Regions from separate parts of the Homo sapiens genome. Here region 1 is linked to region 2. The links come from fine-mapping of genetic effects on gene expression. Tissue or cell type: whole blood. Region 2 holds a variant in brackets; the other region holds the start of a gene. All regions are shown on one strand. Distances are between the middles of the regions.

Evidence for each region. PIP is the estimated chance that this variant, and not a neighbour inherited with it, causes the effect.
Region 1: TNFAIP6 starts here. The variant in region 2 is fine-mapped to the expression of TNFAIP6 in whole blood (TOPMed, PIP above 0.99).

What each region holds. Positions count from the first base shown.
Region 1 is chr2:151,356,505-151,359,194 of GRCh38, reverse strand. TNFAIP6 (TNF alpha induced protein 6) reads right to left here and starts at 1,603. Exons shown (of 6, transcript NM_007115.4): 1 at 1,435-1,603. The coding sequence starts at 1,528. All of the region lies in intron 2 of LOC101929319 (a long non-coding RNA gene), which reads left to right.
Region 2 is chr2:151,323,977-151,326,666 of GRCh38, reverse strand. No RefSeq gene overlaps it. Among named protein-coding and RNA genes, the nearest start is that of TNFAIP6, 32 kb to the left of the region's middle. The variant T/A (reference allele first, on the strand shown) is at 1,038.

The DNA of each region.
Region 1 (2,690 bases), 33 kb before region 2:
GGCTGGCTGGTCAAAAATTTGCCCCAGATTGAAGCAATTTGCAATTATCCTGACCCTCAGATTTGTAGCATACATTAATAGACGTTTGAATTTGCTTCTCTCTACCTCTGGGGCAAAACTTCTATTGTCCAGGTTTATATTTTTGTAACATATGACAACACTTTAAAAGACAACTCTAAATTACTTGATTATTAGAGGGTTTGATAATATTTCAAAGTTTATCTGCCTGGATTTAATTCTTACTAGCTTTATGACATTTAAAAAAAATCCTGACAAATATGAGTGTATTTCCTATATTTGACTGTATTCAACTAAAATAAAGAGATGGGCTCATTCCTCTACTAAATTTCAGATCCCGTCTTGGCCAAATGGATCACAGTGAAATTAGTTCACTGGCTCAAGCTGAAAAAAATAGGCGGCAAGGCTGTGCATTACAAATTAGGCTTTTTAATGAAATCCGCATGGTTGCAGTTATTACCAGAGAGAAACATGCTGAAAGGGAAAATATTCTACAACTGTGCTGTTTAGAAAGCATAAAATCAAAATCTAGGTTAATTTCGCCTTCTCTTTATTTCTTTATTCTATGCAAGAATCTATGCATTTTTCCCCAAGAAATTCAATTTTTTTTTACTATTAAACACAATAATGAACATAGAGCAATATCAATTTGTATCATGAGAATTAAAGCATTGTTTAGCATACTGTAATCTAAGGGGTGTTTTGGATTTTCTGCATTTTCCTTTTTTGATCTATTGTTTATCTTCACTGTTTGGCCTGTCTCATTCCTTACATTTAACAAAACAAAATAACAAAAGAAACTTTCCTTGTCTAACAAAAGGGTCAGAAAAGTATTTATATGGATAGTAGAAACAGAAAGAATCAAAGTGGTAAGAATGCATTCAGAAGGAGAAACATTTTTCACTTTTTTCTGTACTGCAAGCTGGCTTGGTCAAAATAGTCAAAATGTTTGAAAAAACTAAGATATAGACTATAGCTCAGAGTCCATGAAGCAATTATTATAAAATTTTCGTAGACTCCAATTTACCTGTTAGGATTCTGAAATCTGATTGCAAATGCATTGACATAAAAACAGAAGACTATATTGGAGTTTCTAGTTGGTTAAAGAAATACTCCTCACTGTACTACTACATCTGCTTTGAAAAGTTTAAAAATATATTTTCATACTGAATATAAATATTAACTGCTATTTTCTACTGAACAATTCACTTTATAAAATGCTATTTTTAAATTTTAGAGGACAAGAACGCTTAAAAAAAAAAAAGCGTATGTATTCCAAAGGCTATCTTTCCTAAGCATTTTCTTTGAGAACATCAGCCTTGTACAGAATAGAAAAAGTTACTGCTTTAAATTTCCTTCTCCATGATTTAAAGAATTGACATTCTCAACAAGAGGCTCATGAGTGAAGGTTCTTACCAAGCCATATGGAGTTATGAAAAATTCCATCCTTGAATCCCCATCCTTGAGTGTCTTCCCATAGCAAGAGAAATAAGTAAATTAAGATGATCATATCGTCAGTTGTAGTGAAGTAACAGCCTGTTAGGGGCTGCTCACAAATTCTCAGAGCAGTGGCTGAAATGTGACTGAAACATCTGGTTTCCACATCTTTTAAATAGTTTTTTTCAACTGTGAGGTCAGCAAGTACTCTCCAATGGCATTTTCCGCTGTAGAGTTACACAATTATCTCAGTGTCTGAAGCAAATCCTCTGACTCATTTGCATTGGCAACCAAAACTAAGGAGATAGAATGATCATCTATGTTTTAAAATTAACTTACTAAGAACGGAGTTCATTTATTGTTAGTCACAAACACTTTTCTGTTAGAAAGTTTGTGTAACTTGATGCAGATTTAGCAGTGATTAAAAGAAAATCGAACTTCAGTAGGAATTTCAAGATAAATCCTAAATGTCTTATTTGCAGTGTCAATTATGGGATATGGGGTTAAACACTAATCTTTTATTGGTAATGTTGGACTGGCTTTTCTAAACATTGTCAAGCCTGTGTAAAAAATTTAAAACAAAAAGTATGCACAGCTTGGAGAATCCTAATTTTTCTCCAGTGATATATGACTTCCTTATTCTCTGCCTGCTTTTCTTCCAGGGTGGGGTCTGTTGCAGTCTTTGGTGTGTTATGGTCAGCAGCTAAATAAATGTATCAGCTCCCAGAAAAGTATTTCAATTTCAGAGCGTCAGGATGTTCCAGCAGCTTTGGGATGTCCTATTATAACACAGTTTTCCCAGGCCACAAATTCTTGAAGTGTTGGGAGAAAGGTGGGTAGACTAACAAAGTTAATAAAAACTTGTCCCTAGCTTCCCTAGACCACTCTAACTTTGAAGAAGACGATCAAGGTAATAGATAATAATTATTACAGTAAAGTCATCATGTCTTCAAATATCCCAAACTTTCCTCTTCCTTTGTGTAGAATCCTTGGGTAACATATCTGATAATACTCCCACTACCGCTGATGCTAATGGCATTTCCTATTGTTCATTGATAGCCATTTATTGGCAACTTTTGATTTTTTTACAAAATTGGTCATTTTTTGCTACTTAGATTCTCTACTTTTGGTCTCAAATTGCTTCCCATTCACTCCTATTATAGCATTCATTTCTCCCATGCTTTCTTAGTCCCTCCAATGATGTTGGAGTTCTTTGAAAAAGCCAACTTGCTAGA
Region 2 (2,690 bases):
TATGTTTTATTTAACATTGACCAAAAAAGTTCAGAATGTTGATATTACTTTTATTTTTAAGAAATAAAACCAGATTACTCTTTAAATATCTATTTTTATTTTTCTTTATTATTATATTTATGGGCATATAGTTTACATACAATAAAATGCACAAACATTACATGTTCAGTTCAATGAGTTTAGACAAAATAAGACAGAATACTTATAGCACCTAAGAACTTTTCCTCATGCTTCTTCCCAGGCAATATTCTTTGCTATGGTTTGAATATTTGCTCCCTCCAAAACTCATGTAGAAATGTACTTGCCCGGCTGGGTGCGGTGGCTCATGTTTGTAATCCCAGCACTTTGAGAGGCCGAGGTGGGCGGATCACGAGGTCAGGATTTCGAGACTAACCAGGCCAACATAGTGAAACCCAGTCTCTACTAAAAATACAAAAAATTAGCTGGGCATGGTGGCGCATGCCTGTAATCATGGCTACTCAGGAGGCTGAGGCCCAAGAATCACATGAATCCACGAGGTGGAGATTGCAGTGAGCCGAGATGGTGCCACTGTACACCAGCCCAGGTGACAGTGTGAGACTCTGTCTCAAAAAAGAAAAAAGTACCTGCTCTTGTAACAGTATTAAGAAGTGGGACCTTTAAGAGGTGATTAAGACACGAATGGATTGATGCTGTCTTGCACTCTCTCCCTCTCTTGCCCTTTTGCTCTTCCGTCATGTGATGATGCAGCAAGAAGGTCCTTGCCAGATGTTGGCACCTTGATATTGGACTTCTGAGCCCCCAGAACTGTGAGCCAATAAGTTTCTGTTCATTATAAATTACTCAGTCTGCGGTATTCTATTACAACAGTACAAACAAATTAAGACATCTTTCAAACCCTCAGAGTTAAGCAATGTTCCGATTTCTGTTATTGCAGATTAATTTTGCCTGTTTTGGAAATTCATATTTTGCTCAACATAATTGAGTAAAATTTTTTGAGGTTAATCTATGTTGCTGTGGGTATTGGTGGCTTTTTTTTTTTTTTAAAACTGATTCCA[T/A]TGTATAAAAATATTACACTTTTAAAATCCATTTTCTTGCTGACAGATGCAATAGGTATCCTCTTTCATGGCTTCCAGTGATCCTCACCTCCTGGTATTCATTCACATCCTTGTGTAATCTCCTCCCTATGAGGATGGGTTCAACCTAGCAACTCTTTTCTAATAAATAGAATATGGCAAACGCCATGGCGTGTCACTTCCAAGATTTGGATATAAAACATTTGACTTCCATGTCTCTTCTTCTCTGTGGTTCTTCTGGCCTGCTTGTTGTGATAAAGCAAGCTGTCATGGGGTCCACATGTCAAGGAGCTGAAGACCTCTGGCCAACAGTCAGTGAAGAACTCAGGCCATCAGTCTAACAGTCTGTGAAAAATTGAGTCTTTCCAACAGCCATGTAAGTAGACTTGGAAGTAAATCCTTCTCCAAGCAGAGCCTTGAGATGATCTCCAAATCCAATCAGCACGTTTACTGGAACCTTATGAGAGAAGATACTGCTGCTTTTTTGATGAGATTTTTGACCCGCAGAAACTGAGATAATAAACGTTGTTTCCCTTTACTTTTTGGGTAATTTGTGATGCAGCAGTGGATAGCTATTATAACAGACATTTGGTTGTTTTTAATTTTTTTTTTTTTTTTTTTTTTTTGTGATGGAGTCTCACCCTGTCACCCAGTCTGGAGTGCAGTGGTGCGATCTTGGCTCACTGCAGCCTCCACCTCCCGGGTTCGGGCGATTCTCCTGCCTCAGCCTCCCGAGTAGCTGGGACTACAGGTGCACACCACCACGCCCAGCTAATTTTTGTATTTTTCATAGAGACGGGGTTTCACCATATTGGCCAGGCTGGTCTCGAACTCCTGATCTTGTCATCCACCCGCCTTATCCTCCCAAAGTGCTGGGATTACAGGCATGAGCCACCGCACCCAGCCTGTTTTCAAATTTTGGTCAGTGTCCTATTTCATTATTTATTTTCTATTTGTTCTTTGTTTCTCTGTTTCAGTTTTCTTGCCTTCTTTTGGGTAATATATATTAATTTAAAATATGCCATTCTATCTCATCTATGGACATTTTTAGCTACACCTATTTAGTGTTATTTTTTAGTGGGTATTCTAGAGATTACAATGTTGATCTTTAACTTATCACAAACTACAAATACTGTTTTACTATTAAGTAAATAATGTAAGCCTTATATAACCATATAACTCCATTTACTCTGGTCTTTTGTGTTCTTGTTGCCATATATGCTACTTCTATAATATGTTGTTATTCTTTTGCATTAAACATATTTTACCTATACTTAAATATATTTGAAGCCAAAAGAATAGCAATGTATTGTGGCATATACATATAATTTATAGCAAAAATAATGGCAATGTATTTAAAGTGGCATTTTACGTTTACCTAGATATTCAGTAGGTGCATTTCATCATCAGAGTATTCGGTGTAAGATCTAATAATAAGACCTTATTTTGAAAGAAGAATAAGAGCCTTAGAATTCATCATCTCCAAAGAATAAATGACACCACAATATAGTAGTTACTTGGATTTCAGAGTTTGGAATCCAAGCTCTGCCACTTACTGATTATACAACATGGGGCAATGTACTCACCATCCCTTACTTTTCCTATCCGTGAAATGAAGATAAGAAAATCTACTTT